Linked DNA regions of Homo sapiens. The gene in region 3 interacts genetically with the main gene of each other region. Each region holds a gene or a part of one and is shown on either strand. Other genes may lie near its edges.

What was found.
Region 1: changes in MRPL22 (region 3) and RNGTT together harm fitness more than expected from each alone (negative genetic interaction), as found in Homo sapiens cells (one large-scale study listed by BioGRID).
Region 2: changes in MRPL22 (region 3) and PDCD7 together harm fitness more than expected from each alone (negative genetic interaction), as found in Homo sapiens cells (one large-scale study listed by BioGRID).
Region 4: changes in MRPL22 (region 3) and CEP152 together harm fitness more than expected from each alone (negative genetic interaction), as found in Homo sapiens cells (one large-scale study listed by BioGRID).

What each region holds. Positions count from the first base shown.
Region 1 is NC_000006.12:88,960,220-88,965,311, forward strand, and holds the start of RNGTT (mRNA-capping enzyme), read right to left. Parts: upstream 3,400-5,092; 5' UTR 3,191-3,399; coding exon 3,127-3,190; intron 1-3,126.
Region 2 is NC_000015.10:65,126,710-65,131,205, reverse strand, and holds part of PDCD7 (programmed cell death protein 7), read left to right. Parts: intron 1-2,035; coding exon 2,036-2,174; intron 2,175-4,496. UniProt on the Homo sapiens protein: Promotes apoptosis when overexpressed.
Region 3 is NC_000005.10:154,960,577-154,965,072, reverse strand, and holds part of MRPL22 (large ribosomal subunit protein uL22m), read right to left. Parts: intron 1-4,496.
Region 4 is NC_000015.10:48,807,671-48,812,933, forward strand, and holds the start of CEP152 (centrosomal protein of 152 kDa), read right to left. Parts: upstream 3,400-5,263; 5' UTR 3,291-3,399; exon of another isoform or gene 3,261-3,290; intron 3,138-3,260; exon of another isoform or gene 3,028-3,137; intron 2,925-3,027; exon of another isoform or gene 2,549-2,924; intron 1-2,548. UniProt on the Homo sapiens protein: Necessary for centrosome duplication; the function also seems to involve CEP63, CDK5RAP2 and WDR62 through a stepwise assembled complex at the centrosome that recruits CDK2 required for centriole duplication.

The sequences.
Region 1 (5,092 bases), on a different chromosome or scaffold from region 3:
TAGCACCCAGGACTAGCACAAAGTAGACATTTAAATATTTGCTAAATAAAATGACTTCAAAATCACCATCACTATCACCATCACACTATCCTGAGTACCTGGGACCACAAGTATGTGCCAATGCACCTGGCTGTGTCTCATATTTACATTCCCACAGTTCCTAGTAAGCTCTTTACATAGCAGATATGAAATAATTTTATGTTGAATGATATATCTTTAAGAAACTAGGGAGGGCTGGGTGCGGTAGCTCACACCTGTAATGCCAACACTTTGGGAGGCCAAGGCAGGCGGATCACCCGAGGTCAGCAGTTGGAGACCAGCCTGGCCAACATGGTGAAACCCCATCTCTACTAAAAATACAAAAAAGAAAAGAAAAGAAAAGAAAAAAAGGAAAAAGGAAAAGAAATTATAAGTTTGTTTTCTTCCAAGTATTCACCTGAAATCTATTAACTCAGAAGGAGGAAAAAACAGTTCTTCAGAAAATAAAGCTTGGCCCTGTCTCCAAGAGCTCTCTCTCATTGCAAGTCTGGTTTCATCAGAGAAAGTGACTTCACAGAGAAACAAATTATATGTAGTTAGTACCATTTTCTTTCTGATTCAGGAAAATTATGAACTTCTAGTACTAGTAAAGTGAATCCTAACATTTACAACATATAAGTTTGAGCAGCCATAACATTTTCCTCAATATGCAAAATATCAAAGAAATTACTGTGATGGTTAATACTGAGTGTCAACTCGATTGGATTGAAGGATGCAAAATATTGATCCTGGGTGTAGAGGGTGTTGCAAAGGAGATTAACATTTGAATCAGTGGGCTGGGAAAAGCAAACCCACCCTTAATCTGGGTGGGCACCATCTAATCAGCTGCCAGCATGGCTAGAATATAAAGCAGGCAGAAAAATGTGAAAAGACTTGACCGGCTTAGCCTCCCAGCCTACATCTTTGTCCTGTGGTGGACGCTTCCTGCCCTCAAACACTGGATTCCAAGTTCTTCCATTTTGGGACTCAGACTGACTCTCCTTGCTCCTCAGTTTGCTGACAACCTATTGTGGGACCTTGTGATCGTGTGAGTTAACAGTTAATAAACTCCCCTTTACGTCTGTATGTGTGTGTGTGTATGTATGTGTGTGTGTGTATATATATATATGTACATATATTTCCTATTAGTTCTGTCCCTCTAGAGAACCCTTACTAATAAATTACACGATAAGTACAAATTACTTTTTTTTTTTTTTGAGATGGAGTCTCACTCTGTCACCCATGCTGGAGTGCAGTGGTGCAATCTCAGCTCACTGCAACCTCCGTCTCCTGGGTTCAAGTGATTCCCCTGCCTCGGCCTCCCGAGTAGCTGGGATTACAGGCACATACCACCACGCCATCATAGCTTTTTGGCTATTCATATAACTTATTTTGTGAAGTGTCCAAATTTTTTGCTAGTTTTTAAGTCCTTTGAATTTCTTCTGTATAATACATTGATGGTGGGACTATCAAGTGTTACCACTTTGGAAAAGAGGTTGGCAGTTTCTTAAAATTCTTAAAACATACACCTACCATATGATGCAGCCATTCCTCTCCTAGAGACTTACACAAGAGAAATGAAAGTATATGTCCACACAAAGAATTGTACATGAATGTTCACAGCAGGTTTATTTGTAATAGCTAAAAACTGGAAATAACCCAAATGACCATCAATAGATGAACAGGTAAACAAATTGTGGTATACCCAGAACAATAAACTACTACTCTGCAATAAAAAAGGAATAAACTATTGATACATGCATAATCTGGATGAGTATCAAATTAATTATGCTGAGTGAAAAAAGCCACACACACTTCCTTCCACCCCAAGAAGAGTACTCACTATATGTTTCCATTTATTTAAAAATTTCTAGAAAATGCAAACCAATCTATAATTACAGAAAGCAGATCAGTGGCTGCCAGGCGAAGGAGGGATTTAAAAAGGGGCAAGAGGAAACTTTGAGGGGTTTCATGGTTGTTTCCTAGGAAAGAGATATATTTGTGTATATACAGTCAAAATTTATCAAACTGTACGCTTTAAAGCTTATTGTATTCAAGCTCAATAAAGATGAAAAAAACTACAAGAAAAATAATTAAAAAAAACAAAAACCCGGCCAAGCGGGGTGGCTCTCGCCTATAATCCCAACACTTTGGGAGGCCGAAGTGGGAGCATCGCTTGAGTCCACGAGTTCAAGACCAGCCTGGGCAACACAGTGAAACCCTGTCTCCACAAAAAATAAACAAAAAAATTATGGCCAGGCACAGTGGCTCACGGCTGTAATCCCAGCACTTTGGGAGGCCGAGGCGGGCGGATCACTTGAGGCCAGGCGTTGGAGACCAGCCTGGTCAACACGATGAAACCCTGTCTCTACTAAAAACAAAAATTAGCCGGGTGTGGTGGCACGCGCCTGTAATCCCAGCTACTTGGGAGGCTGAGGCAGTGAGCCGAGATCACGCCACTGCACTCCAGCCTGGACGACAGAGAGAGACTATGTCTCAAATATATACATTATAAATATATATATACTTTAATAAATAAAAAAATTAGCCGGGTGCGGTGGCAGGAGCATGTAGTCCCAGCTACTTGGGAGGCTGAGGTGGGAGGATCCCCAGCCCGAGCAAGAGACCCTGTCTCACAAGAAAATAAAAATAAAAAACTAACAAAAACACCCTCCAGATTCCCAGTCTCAATGTGACCCCATTTCACCGCTGGGAACCGCCCCTTCCCTCCTTAACCCTCCTCCATCTCAATACTGATATTCATCCCTTCTTTCGAGGGGAAGGTTGAACCCTAACAGGTTCGCAAACTACTAAGACTCAAAGTACGCCCACTGTATTCCTGGATCCTCACCTCCTGCCACCAACCTCCTGTCTACCTTCACATTCGCACAGTTAGCCTTGCAGGAATAGTAACAAGTGCCCCCCATCCGCCGACCATCCCCTCCCGTTCATGTTCCCATTCATCCACGAAGCGTAATCCGACGGAGCATATCCCGCTCCTGAAATACCACTAATGGGCACAGAACCACCAAAAGCTGAGCTCCTCAGTCGGCCCACCCCCGGGCACGTTGGAGTGTGGGGATTCGAACGCCCCCCAGTCCAGGTTACCTGCCACCGGCTGGCCGCGCCGGGGACAGTTCAGCCACCGCGGCGGGATCTTGTTGTGAGCCATGTCTTGGGGCTGCGCAGAGCTGCCCTCCCTCACCAACGTTCACCGCGCCTTTGGAGCCGCCTCCCCGTGGTCCGGTGCACACCGGGGTCCGAGACACCCGAATCGCAGCCGTAATCTGAATTCCAACCTCTCCGATCCGGGTAACGTCAGGGGCGGCGCGCCACTTTCATTCAGGATCAACTCCACAGCTCCAGGAGAACCCACAATGCACCGCAACTTCCGCCCCCGAAAGCCCCGCCCCCTTTCCGAGGTCAGAGGGAAAGAAGAGGAAGCTCAGCGGAAGGATAGCAAAGAGTTAAGGACGCGACGAATGGGAGGAGCGGGCCTTCTCTCGCCCCACTCGGCACCGCCCCGCCCCGCCCCGTCCCGCTCCACGGACGCGCCCGGACGCTACTGGTTCGCCTTTGCGCATGTGCAATTGCCCTCGTACCGAACTCCGCAGGACGAAGCGTGTATTTTTTTCCCATCCAGACAACCTAGAGAAACCCAAAAAAGAGGGAAGCCAAGCGCCTTTCCATGCGTAGATTGCCCGCCACTTCCGTTAAGGCATCTATTTTACTGATGAAAAGAGGCCTTCTGAGCGTTACCACAGCTCAAGCTTGGCGTCCCAGCCGGATCTAGGTTTGATTTGCAATTAGGGAAAGTTGTTCAAGGGAACAAGTCTTAGGAGAATTCTAAGGACATGAGATTGGAGTACCAGAAATGGGGAATTTTTCTTTTGGTGAGTACTTACGAGGATCTATGAAGCTTCTGAAATTAATTCCAGAACACTTAGAGTTTTGTTTGTACATTTCTGGATCAAAGTTTCAAAGCATACTGGGGAGTTTGAGAGGGTCCATGTCTCCAAAAAAAGTTACTAATTAATGTGGTATAATTGACAAAGGTAGGAATTGATCAGTGGAGAACCTCTTCGTGGCGTTGTTCTCCTTGGCCTACCAAATAAACAGTGCCTTTTATTTTCCCTTCGAGTTAAGCAGAGGTGCTTGAAAAATTTTTATAAATGCCGTCCTTTAACGAGCCTTTCCTTTGTTACCAGATTAAAGTGTTAAATATAAAGCTGGATGATGGCGAATCAATTATAATGTAGTTTGGCTTTAAACACCAATGCTATATTGGAACTGCAAGAACGTAAGGCTGCAGGGAATACATTTTTAAAGCGTCGGTGGGGAACTTTCTGGGACGCTCAACCCCCTGAATGCCTGGACCCCCTCAGTAAGAGTCCCATCAATAGAGGCAGTCCAACAGCAATCTCTCTGAGGCAGCCTGAGTTAGGTCACACTTCTGGTCTGTCCTGCTGTTGCATCTGCTCAGAACTGTTAGTGAAGGTGTAAACTCCTCCCCTGACAGAACAAGATAATACCCAGTTTCCTTTAAGGCCATCAGTCTACCCAAATAATCTCCGATGAATTCCCTTTTCTGCTGATAGAGTGTGTACCATGCCCAAAGTGGTAAAAACCTTCCATCCCCAGACCCCCTCCAAGGATGGGAAAGGTGAGCCTGATCCTGGAAGAGTATCTTACCTTCCCCTTCTGGGGATGACTCCCCTTGGTGACTCCCCTTCCCACACACGCTATACCCAGTAGCTCAGTCCTAGGCACACAGAAGCTTCATACCACTGGCGAGCAACTGTTATTGGCTGTAAGGCAGCAATGTGCACTGGATTTTTATTCTGCTATCCAGTTATGCCCTCTCCATACTCATTGCCACAGAATTGGGAGGACCCTGTGGCTACCTTTTGTCCACAATAGAGAGTAGAGTAGGAGAGTGGCATCCCGATGAGCAGGCAGTTTCTCTCTGCCTGTCAGGAATGCCTTGCCTGATGTGTGTTTCTGCCTATATTGCTCCTAGTCCCAAGTTTCTACTACTCTGTGAGAAGAAAAATAGATGCTCACAGACAGACCA
Region 2 (4,496 bases), on a different chromosome or scaffold from region 3:
TTTGTGCTCCTATGAGAATGTAATGCTGCTGTTGCTGATCTGACAGGAGGCGGAGCTCAGGTGGTAATGCAAGCAATGGGGGAGTGGCTGTAAATGGAGATGAAGCTTCACTTGCTCGCCTGCCTCATCTTTTGCTGTGTGATCTGGTTCCTAACAGGCCATGGACTGGTTACCATCCGTGGCCTGGGGTTTGTTGACCCCTGGCTTAGAGATCTGTGGGAGATCATGTCAGTATAGCGTGGTGTGTGTTAGGAATTCAACTATAGGTGCTGTAAAAGCCCAAAGAAGGAACATCTGATTTACTGAGGGAATGCTTCCCAAATGATACAATGACACGTAAGCTGAGTCTTTTTTTTTTTTTCTGAGACAGAGTCTCGCACTGTTGCCCGGACTGAAGTGCAGTGATGCCGTCTTGGCTCGCTGCAACCTCTGCCTCCCAGGTTCAAGCGATTCTCCTGCCTTAGCCTCCAGAGTAGCTGGGATTACAGGTGCACACCACCACTCCTGGCTATAAGCTGAGTCTTAAAGGAAAAGTCACCCAGGTGAAGGTAATAGGTGCAGTTCCAGGGAAACAGAGTAATCCAAATGGAGAAGTGAAACAGCTTGGTGTTGGCTGTAGCTGTAGTGGTGGAATTACAGGCACTTATTTGACAGATGGGGGAGAGCACTTTAGGCAAGAGGATTCTCTCCACCACCCATGGTGAACTTTTTATTTTATTTATTTTATTGTTTTAAGGAGACAGGGTTGGGGCTGGGCGCCGTGGTCATGCCTGTAATCCCAACACTTTGAGAGGCCAAGGCGGGCGGATCACCTGAGGTCAGGAGTTCGGGACCAGCCTGGCCAACGTGGTGAAACCCTGTCCCTACTAAAAATACAAAAAATTAGCTGGGCATGGTGGCAGGAGCCTGTAAACCCAGCTAATTGGGAGGCTGAAGCAGGGAATCGCTTGAACCCAGGAGGCGGAGGTTGCAGTAAGCCGAGATCGCGCCATTGCCCTCCAGCCTGGACAACAGCGAGACTCCATCTCAAAAAAAAAAAAAAAAAAAAAAAGAGGGTTGGGGGCGGGTGCGAAGTGGCTCACTCCTGTAATCCCAGCATTTTGGGAGGCTGAGGCAGGCAGATTACTTGAGCCCAGGAGTTCCAGACCAGCCTGGGCAACATGGAGAAACCTCGTCTCTACAAAAAACACAATTAACTGGGCATGGTGATGCTGTGATCACACCACTACACTCCAGCCTGGGCAACAGAATGAGACCCTGTCTCAAAAAAAAAAAAAAAAAAAAAAAAAATACAAAGTTTCACTCTGTTGCCCAGGCTGGAGTGCAGCGGGTTTGTCATAGCCTGTAGGTTTGAACTCCTGGTCTTAAAGTGATCCTCTCGCCTTAGCCTCCTGAGTAGGAATAGCTAGGGACACATGCCATTATGCCCAGCTTCCATGGTGAGGATATTGGTGACAGAGTCTTATGAGGAGTGGCTTGAGGAACTGGGGTTATTTAGTCTATATGTGAACTAAGTCAAGAGTAGGACAGCAATCTTTGGTATTTGAAAGGCTGTCATGTGGAAGAGATCCTTGGGACTTTAGAGCAGTGGAACACAAACATAGGTTGTCACTAAGAGACCTTTGTAGAGGTCTCAGCCTTTCCAGCCACATTCCTTATCCTTCCTGGGAATCTGAATCTTCAGGTCTAGGGAATCTGCATTTTTAACAAGTCTCAGCTTAACAAGGTAAGTTGGACACCTGATCTCTGCACTACACTTTGAGAAACACTGAGGAAGAAACAAAACCAGTGCTATGTGGAAGATACAGAGAGGAGAGGTTCTCCTTTAAGATGAAGGTTGTACCATCAGTGGAGGGGGATAACCTCTTAGCTAGAGGGGAGTTGTGCAAGGCCTAAGAAATTGGGATGGAGATTCAATAGAGTCTCTCTTAACCTGGAGACTGTCTGATCCTTTAAAATCTAACCACTGGGCAGCTATTCTCTGCTGTAAGTTTGTTCCTAATACGAGGTCTCATGGGCTTTGTTTCTCTTCCAGGAGCAGGAACTCAAAGCAGCCGCTGATGGCGTACTATCTGAAGTGAGGAAAAAACAAGCAGATACCAAAAGAATGGTGGACATTCTACGGGCTTTGGAGAAATTGAGGAAACTGAGGAAAGAGGCTGCAGCGAGGAAAGGTAACTGTGGCTTTGCATTTCTTTCCTTGTTCCCTTCCCCTTCTTTACTCTAGCTCCTCCCACCCCAAATATTATTGAGGGAAAAATACTTGAAACTTCATGATTTTCACCTTGTCGGGTAACTGGGCTTGTCAGCAAGTAGGTCAGAACTTCTGAAGCAGGAAGCCTCAGAAGATGTTTAGCCTGTGGTAGCCCAGATTGAAAAGAGAGGCAAGTGTGGGAACCCACTGCACTGTCTTCCCCTTGACTTATCATTCCTACCCTGGGCATTTCTGGCCACACTCTTCTGAGTGGGCTTGTCATGGCTAGTCACCTTTGCCTTGTGCCAGAGTGAAAGCTTTTCACCCTTACTTGTTGCTCCAGAAAGTGTTGAAAACTTGGCATGCTTCTTCAGATACATTTCAAACCTGAATTATTTCTATTTGAAGAGGTATGAATGGTTGGACAGGGCAGGGATTGCAGACTGTGTGGATTTCCCCACCTTCCCTTCATGTCACTGGTCTCTTCTTGCCTCTGGAGGAAGCACCAGACACTATAGCCAGGCAGTTCAAGCTTCTCCACCGAAGTTTGTTTCAACCATGCTGGCTTTCTAGAAGTTACCCAATTGTGCTTTCCATTTGCCTGTCTGGATCTTAGCTGTTGTCATTCTGTTCATCTGGAGGGCCCTCAGTCCCATCTTTGCCATTTTAAGATCTCACTATTCAAAACCAAATACACATGCAGCATCCTTCATCCTTCCCTGATCTGGGCTGAGGTAACCTCCTGTTGCTTCTCACTTGCACCTGCTTTGGACCACATGCTGATTTATTTAGTAGATTGTAGGCCTTTGGTATTCACCAGAGATATTTGAGAGTGTACAAATTAGCAAATGCCACTCTAACAAATGATTTCCCATGTGTTGTTTAAAATGTAAATGAAAACTGGGATTCTTTTAGACCCTTAAGAAAGTTGTGTTGGAATATGACCATTTTGTATTCACCCAGGCTCGTTTGCTAGCTAAGTGATTGGCTTTTGCATACTAGCCTTCAGAGCGGCTAATTCACATCCAGACCTCAGAAACAGATGCCTCCATTGTGGTACTCTCAGGGCATTTGTAAATCAGAGGGAAGTTAGCATCTGCTTTGTCTACCCATCTCTTTTTCACTAGAAGGCAAAACCTGAGAGCTATTTAATATTCCCACACCTCACATCCTCTATGAGGTGAGTGCTCAGTAAACTTCTGCCAAGTGAATTTACCAGCATTTCCCAATATTAATCTTCCTCACTTTGGTCCAAAAGGAGGAGGAAATTTTAGGAAAATCATTATCTATAGAAATAAACAGACTTTGTGGCATTAAGTGACTTGAATGTAAAATGATTTGGTAAGTAGCAGCTGGTTGCATGCATATTTAAAATGAGCAGCTAACTTCTCTCTTCAAGATGTGTGCACCTCCAACTAAGTGCTGAATGATGAGGCTGGATGTTTAAGCAGGACCACGTTGCAAATTGTCTTATGGGCTATGCTAGAGTTCTCACTTATACTTAAAGCTTTGGGGAACCGCTGAAAGTTTTTTTTTTTTTTTTTTTTTGAGACGGAGTCTCGCTCTGTCGCCCAGGCCGGACTGCGGACTGCAGTGGCGCAATCTCGGCTCACTGCAAGCTCCGCTTCCCGGGTTCACGCCATTCTCCTGCCTCAGCCTCCCGAGTAGCTGGGACTACAGGCGCCCACCACCGCGCCCGGCTAATTTTTTGTATTTTTAGTAGAGACGGGGTTTCACCTTGTTAGCCAGGATGGTCTCGATCTCCTGACCTCATGATCCACCTGCCTCGGCCTCCCAAAGTGCTGGGATTACAGGCGTGAGCCACCACGCCTGGCCCCGCTGAAAGTTTTTAAGTGAAATGATGGCAAAGATCAGTGCCAGTAGAGCAGAGAAAGTTTTGGAGCATCCAGGAGAGAGAGAGAAGGGCAGAGAGATGGGTAAGGCTATTGGGCACGGGTAGTATGGAAGCATAAGCTGAGTGACGTCAGTGTGTAGGAGAATTGAGAGGTAATGAGTAATTCAAGTGATAGTGAATAATTGAGTAATTCAGAATTATTAGTGAATAATTCTCAAGTCAAAGAATTGAGAGATAATGAATAAAGGTATATGTGTATATACCCATGTACATATAAATAAATAATTTAAGGAACTCAGAGTACAGGAACTAAAGGGAAAAACAATGAAATGTCTTCCAGATTCTAGCCTCATCTACTGAATAAGTGAAGATAGCTTTTTTTTTTTGCTTTTTTTTTTTTTAAAAGACAGGGTCTTGCACTGTCGCCCAAGCCGAAGTGCAGTGGTG
Region 3 (4,496 bases):
AAGACCTACTGCCCTTTTATTAACTTCATTTAGTGGGCACTGAAAAAATGAGTTTACAAATTTCCAGAGAAAGCAGCATTACACAAATCACTTTATAAGGAAACCCCATCACGGCGCGTCCCCTGGATCAACCTGTCTAGAGGAAACCTACAAATAAGAACAGTGAGACCAGAAAACTTCTAAAAAGCATTTTACAAATGTGATAGCTGCTTCTATCCAAAATCATTTCTCTATCCAACTTGAGCACCAATTTCCAAATACTCAATGGATCACTAGATCACAATGATCAACCCCATCACGGTCTACGTCGGCTCCCATTTCCCTTCTATCTCCCCCAAAACACAAACTTACAGAGATCTGCACAAAAGCAGAAGCTCAATGCCTGCTAACTGTCAGTCATGATTTCATCTTAAAGCCATAAAAGATCATCTGCATATCTTAAAGCCATGATGCCATCATTTCTTTATGTCAAAACAAAAACATTAATTTTTCTGAAACATCCTAAGATTCTTTAATACACCGTAATGGGAATACCCAACACAGCCACCCTGAGGTGTAAATGAAATCAGGACTTAGAACATAGTTGCCAAACTGTTTCCTGGTTCCTCTCCTCCAATCTCTCCTCCACTAAGTCCATATTTAGGGGTTTCAAACTGCTTTTGTATATGGAATCATTTCAAGTAAAATGAAACAATATGTAGAAGCCTGATATATATAACACTGTAATGCTGATCTGCTCCTATTGAAACGTGGGTCAAGGAAGACCCAAAACTCTGCCATTCATTCACTCAACAAACATTTTTTAGTTCCTCCTGGGTACCAGGCTCTGTCCTGGGCTCCAAGGATATAGTGGTGACCAAGATATCAAGGGTCCCACTGCTAAACACCCCACAGAGCACAATTTCAAAACTACCGCTTATTGTTAATACTTTTAAAACACTATCTTAATAACATAAATCTCTTACCCAAACCTCTTTGATATAGTTTGAACCAAATACACAGCCTGCCATGTTCAGTTCTCTGGAATATAGGCCCAATCTACCCTTCCCATTTTATCTACTCGAGGTCAAACTTCTACTTCCTTCACACTGTTCTCCTCATTGTACTACACTATTACTGCTTATTCCAACCTATGTGCCTCTGCATGTATGGCCACCCCACTTTAAAAATCTGCTCTTCTCCTGGAAGAGCATTCCTCCAGACTCCCAAAAGCCTATCTTCACATGCCAATTTTTTCTAGAAAGTCTCCACGACTATTCTAACCCATATTGACCTTTTCTTCTCTACTCCAACAATACCATTTGTCTGTATTACTCTTTTTGGTCCCAAATCATATGCTGTCTTTATAAGCATCTGTGTTTCATCTGTAAAAGTCACCTCCTCAACCAAACTTATACCCTTTTTGTATTGCCCCAAAAGTTCATGATCCATAGAAACAGAAATAATTTTGAAATACATCATCTGCTACTTAATATCATTTTTTCAATACAGAGGTCTCTGGTAAATCTGCTCAAATTCTGAAATAAGTTTCAAAGTTTTTCAAGTACATATAATATTAATGGTATACACAGTATTATTATACTTCAGAAGAACAATGTATGCATTCTTCCAAAGAAATACTACTGTCAAAGAACTACAAGTGTTAAATGTTTTAAAATGACACAAAAGATATAACATCACCTATTTAATGTGGATAGTATGCACACAGAAAGTACTCAAATACTTTTTGAATGAAAGAATACATTAAGATATCTCAAAAATGAAGACAACCTGTGTTTTTCTATAGATAATACCCAATAGGTGTAATGAATTTAAAATATTGCCAATATTTTCAGGGCAGGCACAGTGGCTCACGCCTGTAATCCCAAAATCTTGGGAGGCCGAGGCAGGTGGATCACCTGAGGTCAGGAGTTCGAGACCAGCCTGGCCAACATAGTGAAACCTCATCTCTACTAAAAATACAAAAATTAGCTGGGTGTGGTGATGCATGCCTGTAGTCCCAGCTACTCGGGAGGCTGAGGCACAAGAATTGCTTCAACCCTGGAGGCAGAGGTTGCAGTGAGCTGAGATCGCACCACTACACTCTAGCCTGGGTGCAGAGTGAGACTCCGTCTCAAAATAAATAAATAAGTAAGTAAATATATATACACACAGCAAATATTTCCTATTAGTAGTATTTAGGTAAATACAAATCTTGAAATTGTAACATTAGAAGCCCTCCGCTCCCACCTTCATCACTCTCAGCCAATAAGATTGATGTACAAGGTCAGTTGATCACTTTCCCTAAAGTGATTCACTTTAGATGCCATGAATCACTAAGCAGAGACATTTTATTAGTCCCTGTCCACTTGTTAAGGCCTATTCACAGTATCATTAGTCATCACTATAAGTTTGAAAGGGAAGTGAACTTTCTAAATCTGTGGTCATGCAACACCAGGTATTAGCTTTACACCAATGACAGGCATTTGAAAGAGTTACCATATAATGAGAACATATGCTATCAAAAAAGCACTTCCTTTAAAATGCCTATACTTATTTCAGGGTACTGAAAGAACCATTGCTGAACCAAAATAGTAGCCAATAAGTAACTAGTTTTTCAAAACTCTAACAGAAGTCTATGGAATGAAATGTCTAGGCCTTTTCCAAGAACACAGTAAGATAAATCAGTTTCCCATATTTTATGGTTAAGAATCAATAGTTTATTAAACAACTGATTATTATTAACTTGTTTATTAAATAAACAGCTTCCTAGGCCTCTCCACTGGGGTTTCAAGTCCAGTGGGTCTGTGCCGAGGCCTGGGAATCTATATTTTAAATAACAACCTCAAGATGATTCTTAAGAAGCAGCTTGGCAAATACAGGGATAAAATGTCTGACACATCATACTCTTCCTGAGGGAACTCATCTCTTTTGATTATGGAATTAGGCATCAAAATACTTAGTGAATGAAAAATTTTAAAAATCATAATGTAAATCCAAATTTATTAGCCTTACTTAAGTCATCAACACAGAAGTAGATGAAAAGACAGTACAGGTAAGGCAGAGATTTTTCAGCAGAAATGTGCAAAAGAACTCTGGATTAAAGGGTCAGACAATGTGGCTTATGCCCGTAATCCTAACACTTTGGGAGGCTGAGGCAGTAGGACTGCTTGAAGCCAGGAGTTCAAGACCAGCATAGGCATCTAAGCGAGACCTCTGTCTCTACAAAAAATTTTAAAATTAGCTAAGTGTGCTCGTACGTGCCTCTAGTCCCAGCTACTCAGGAGGCTGGGGCAGGAAGATGACTTGAGACCAGGAGTTCAAAGCTGCAGTGAGCTGTGATCACACCACTGCACTCCAGCCTGAGTGACAGAGCAAGTCCTCATCTCCAAAAATAAAAAAAGATAAAATAAAGGGTCATTTATGTAGGATTGGTTAAGCATGTTTTTGCTTAATGGCAACAGTGGACCCTGCTCCTTCATTTGGAGCAACAGGATTAAGCTCTTTATCCTATCTCTCTTTACTATAATTATTGAAAAGGATTTAAAGACAGTTATTGAAAAAGGCTTAAAGACAAATCATATTTCATTTGTATCTGAAGTCCATTAGAAAGTCTATCAGCTACGAATCTCACATCCCTGTGAAACTGCATAAAATTAATTAAATTTGATTTGATATTCAGAGTCACAGAGCAGGAAGAATCACCAAGAGGTTTTAAGCAAATGGTCTTGCTCCTCATCCCTTCCAATGGTTCCAAGACCTCTCCAACATTATTTATTCATAATGCTCCCAGAAGAAAATGCTTATGATTAACTACCATGGCCCTGCATCTTGGGTTGCCATTTTGATTTCCCTTTGCATCTTTGCATGTATCAAAATAAAATTATACAAGATTCAGCTTTAAAATAAAGCATTTCAACTGAAAATCAACTAATTTGAATTTCAGGAGGTGTGGTGGCCAACATCAATGCCAGGTGAGTTGAACTGAGATTTTAACCTAATCAGCACAGAGGCTATGTGAAAAAGTAGAATTTAGATAATTTTTTTTTTACTCTAATTGTTGAAAAATTATAAAATACAACTAATTCCCCCTGTATTGATTCAGCCCTTTCTCCTCCATCTGGAGAGTAGATGTTCCCCATATCTTGAATTTAAAATAGCTTTAAGTAAAATAATCTTTATATGTTGGTATGGCAGATTGAGAAAACTTTGCTTCAACATCAACATCTTTGTTTGAATATAAAACTGCTGAGGTTAGGAGTAATTGCTGTAGTGAGAAAAAAATAATAACTCCAACCACTGCTCCACTTTCCCATGGTGTTGGGAGGAGGCAAGAGAGCTTTGTAATAAACATTAATCTCCTTCTCAGAAAATAACTGTGTGACGGTCTGCAGCAAAAAGATTCCTTACATTTGTACAGCACATCATGCTTCCCAAAGCATTTTAACTTATATTAATTTAATTTGATGTGGAACAAGCATGTAAAAGCAGAGCTAATGCTTCAGGATGTAGTAACA
Region 4 (5,263 bases), on a different chromosome or scaffold from region 3:
TCTTTCATTCAAATATAAATACAAGACGAAATATGGAATTTGGGTTACTTTCTCCTTCATTAAGTTAGAGAAGAGAGGTTTGTTCCCATCCTTTATTAACCTGCCATCAACTGATGTTGATTATTGAAAAAGAACATTAAGATTTATAAGAGCCTATTGCTAAAAATGTAGCTACTAATATTTTAAATAGACAGCTACTTTTTCTCAGATAGAGAATACTTAGGGTTTTGTTTTTAAAGAGAATGTAAAATATCAAAGTATATATCTTTAATGTTATTTTAAATTCAAAACATGTCATTAAAGAAGACATCTAAAAATACCTGAAAAGACCAAAATCTCCCCCACTGAAGAAGGTATAAGTTTTCCTTATCAGAACTATAAACTATAAAAGACTTTAAGAAATGATTTCAGACATAAAGGGAAACCTGATCAACTTAATGTGGTTAAAAATATATATAGTAAAAAGGTAATACATATTTTAAATGAGACTTAAAATAAAAGCTAATACCTTAACTTATTAATCACCACTCATTATCACTGCTACCAGAGACTTTAGTATAATATTCAGAACAACAAAAGAGACTTCTTTAAAAAAAAAAAATAGCAAGATAGTAAATCCAAAAGCCATAAAGAAAAATGTGATGGAAACCTAACCACAAAAAATAAAATTTTGTTTAAGGCAAAAGACATCATTAACGAGTCAAATATTATATATGAAAAAATACATCAATAACAAAGTCAAGAAAAATAAGAATAAAAAAAATTTGCAAAGCACCTGACAAAGTCCCAATATAAAATTATTACAAAGAAATGAGAAAAAGACAATCCAATATAAAATTGGGCGACTGACATGACAATTTATTTTAAAAAGTGTAAATCAATTAGTTTGAAAAGATGCTTAAGCTCGTGATGTTTCAAAGAAGTGTCATTTAAACAATATGCCATTTTCAACCACTAGATTGAAAAAACAAACAAACAAAAAAAAAACTTGTTATCACCCAGTGGTGACTATTTTGTATTTTGTATGGCTCATGAGTTGCTGGTGAAAATATCAACTGCTAAACCATCTTGAAAACTATCAATATTAATATATTGAAAATTAACATTTACACTAGTAAAATTATTTTGAATTAATTTGTCAATACTATGCCACTAGTAAAAATACTGAAAATTTTCTATATCTATTGACTCAAGGCTGACCACTTGAGAAATCAAGATGCAGATTAAGTATACAGTATGTTTTGGTTTTCTTCTTCAATAGCAGTCTGGTAGACTTTCTTCCTAGATAACTTTTTCTGAACCCTTAACAAGACTATAAAAAGTATGTCTTGTTGTTACACTCAGATGGATGCTCTGACCCAGCATTCCTTTTGTTGTCCCCGGTTGTTTTCTCTGCCCTCCTTGCAACAAAAGCAATGGGTATTTGGACAAAAGATTACAAAGCAAAAGTAGCATTGTTTTTGCTTCATCTAATAAACTATAAGCACCCTGAAGGCAGAATTAAAATGTATCTGCCTGCTTGCACATGGTGGGTACATAACAAATATTTGTTGACTGAATATGATATAGGCATGTTACCTTATACGAATTCATTACTTCAATAAAATTTTATTGAATACCCACTGTGTTCCAGATCATATCCTAGATGCACCTAAGACATGGTACCAGCCATGAGGAGCTCACTGTCTCTGCTCACCCTCTCTTAGATAGAGCCACTGATATAAACAGTTACAATAACATATTGTAATAAATTCCGTAGTAGATGAAAGTACAAAGCACAAATTACTTTTCCTAAGAAGAAAGGATAGTTTAGAGAAGTTTTACAGAAAAAAAAGAGCTTTTAGATTAGAAATAAATCTTAAAGGACACAATATGGCTATAAGTGGTTCTAAGAATGAGGGCACTCATTCAGACAACCTGGGCTCAATTCTGGCTCTTCTATTTATCAGCAGTGCAATCTTGAGCAAACTGTTTCTGCTTCTACGTTAAAGAAATGGGGGTAAAAATAATACCTACTTCAAAGATTGATTCTGAGGATTCACAAGATACTACATGTAAAGTAATTAGCACTATGTACCAATCAATACATTGTAGTTTTATTACTATTATGACATTATTACTGATGAATAGGAGTCTGCCAGCTACCGAAGAGGTTTAGGGAATAAAGAGGATTCCGCATATCTGAGAAAAGGTGAATGTGCAGCCTATGAGAAATGTCACTTCTAATAATGCAACCTCCTATGGAACAAAAATGCCACCCTCCTTCAAGATGCCCTCCCAAGCCTGTTCCCCCATGGAGCTGGCCACTCCTTTGCACTTTCAGACTGTATTTCTTATGCTTTTCTTATGGCTTCAACTTCAGCTTCTCTTTAGTTGAGTGCATTCACCTGTCTAGGGAGTGCATGTTCATTGTCACGCACTATGAAGGTATAAGGTGATAATAGGCTTAAATCAGACTCAAGTTCATGACTACGATATAGGAAGGGTTATAAACCCCCACAAAAGGGGTTTCTAAGAACTGCACTTGGAGTTGGGAAATTCTACTTACTTGCTGACATAACTCGCCTTCTAGAATGGAAATAGCCAGAGCACATAGCCCGGTTTAGACTTGCAACACCTGGTGGAGACACCTTATTCATTCATTCGACAATTTACCAAGCACTGTTCAAGATTACAAAGTTTAACAGGACACGATGAAGGGAAAGAAAATAGACATATAAACAAATGATCACAACATCTTGTGATCAGTGCTAATAACAGCACTTTGGACAAATTGATTCAAGTTGCCCAGAGGGCGGAGCGAGTAATGCTAATACACAATAAGCATCCACAGGCTGAGCGAATGACCTTGAGGAACTGTTTGGCGTCAGCTACGGCACTACAAACATGACCAAAGCCGCACGGGGCCCAGGATGCCCGGGGCTACTGGCTTCGGGTGCCAGCGTCACTTGTACTCGGTCAACACACGTGCACAGAGCACCTACTGTGAGCCAGGCGTGACGCCAGGGTGACCAAGGCGGGGTCCGCAGAGTAGGGTCTCAGGGCGACCCCAGCAGCCTGGAAACGAGGCGGGCTTCCCATATGTCACTTCTAAGTAGGATATTGGAGGAATGAAGAGGTCTAAATGACACGTTAAGGTAAAAGCTGAGCCCGCAACATGCGGGCAGTCCACCACCGCGGGATTTGGGGAGGGGGCAGGTCAGCCCCCCCAGGAACCCTCAGCCAGCATCCCGAGGACCCCGCAACTCCTCTAACCCCAGGTCCAAGCTCACCCGTGAATCAGAACTTACCGGAGGCCACGGAGGCTGTTACCGCGAGGAAACTCTAGTCCTGGCGGAAGACCAACTTCTAGCAGATCCCCTTACCCTGGCTCTAGTCCACTAGCTCCTTCCTAGTCACAACCGAACTCACGGGGCGGAGGCCCTTAAGGAGCACTCGCATCCTTCAATCGCCGACTAGAAGCTCGCCCGGTGGGCGGAGCCGTGCCAGCTCAGGGCAGAGCGAGGAGGCAGAAGTCTCCGCCTTCCTCAAGCTTGGTTGAGAAGTCCACCTGCAGTTGCAAAGTACGGCTGTTTGAAAGCGGGCGCCAGAGGTGGCGGGAAGCTCCCCCTGTGCGCCCATTGGTGGATTCGAGAGCCAATTACGAGGAAGTCACCCCGGAGTGGGCGGGCTGATCGGTTGCCTAGAGACGCCGAGGCGCTTCACCCGCTACCTTCGGCCAGGGTGCAGCAGTCTTACGGGGACCCCTTGCCCGTTTGGTACCGGAGACTGCAAAGGTGACTCGTGCCTCCTGCGCTTCAGCACACAGAATCCCGCAGATTCCCCACCGAACTCTTGCCTTAGAGGTTTTTTACATTTGCCCTTGTTTTCTAAGGCGCCTGCTTCCCCATTATTTAACAGCCTTAGATATTTTGCTTTGTCTTCTACCTTACTAGGTGCCGCTTTGTTTACATTTTTGCTTCTTTAATTACTGATAAGATGGCACATTTTTCCACGTGTCTATTTACTACTCTAATTTCCTCGGGTGTGAGTGTTCTTGTCACTTAGGTGTATATTATTAACCTGCCCCTAAAGACAGCGCCACCCAGTCCTCAGTAAAGCCCAGTACTGTGTCTATCTTCTCTGGCTGAAAGGGTTCCAGTGAATAATCAAGGAATTGGTGGCGGCAGGTTCACATATCCTTTCAACCCTTTCCCATGTGTACTGGCACGGAGTAAAATGGTTGTTCGAGGCTCTTCATACTGTGGCTGGTTTTCCTTTGCTACTTCACCGTCCGCCCCCATGATGCCTACACTGACCCCTGTAACCCCATAAACTGGTATAGGGTTTGGCAAACAACAGGTAATTTAACCCACTGTAATAGAATGAACGAAATCACAGCCTGAGCTAACAATGGTTCCCAGAGCGCTTTTTTTCTTTCACCTGCTGTGAAAGCTGTTTCTTTCACCTGCATCGCCTCTACCTTCTCCTGCTACTTAGTTTTGAAGACAGACTAGCACCTCCTTTGAAGCCTTTCATGACACACACTCCCTCACTTCGCAAAAATGATCTTTCCTACCTCTGTACACAGTGTATCCTATATATCCTATTATAGTTCTTTTATCTACTGTAAGTTTTTGTGTGTCTTACACTCAGTACAACGTGAATATCTTGAAGTACTCACTTTACTTCTTGGGTGTCTAACATGACCCTGGTAGGCACTCAAAACAATTATGTTAAATGAGTAAATGAATAAATGAACAAATAGATGAAGATTTTGGCAGGGGGGCAGGCAGAAAAAGCAAATAAAAGGCCTTCAAGTAAATGGCATTTGTTGAATCTGAGCCAAGGCATCTTAGTGAGAATTAAATGCACTTTTCACTTTTCACATCCCACTGAAGTCGATTGGCAAACTGTATGTTGCATTCTGTGCTGAGGGTTATGATGGAGTGCTGCAGCAAGAATGCCAGGTGATCCCCATGCACAAACAACTGCTTCTTAGAAGGATGAAAGCATAAAACGTGTCAGGGTAAGCACATGAGGAGGCAGTGTTTATAATCCATTACACAGTGCTTTACAGATTGGTAAATTCTTTCACAAGCATCATCTCATTTGGTTCTCACTACAACACTGTGGGGGGTTAGGACAGGTATTCCTACCCATTTTCCAGTTGAAGAAACTTACATAAAAATAAATTAAATGACTTGTCCAAGGCTACACAGCTAATACAAGGCAGACAGAATCTGAAACCAGGTCCTTTATCTCCAAACCCAGAGCTCATCAC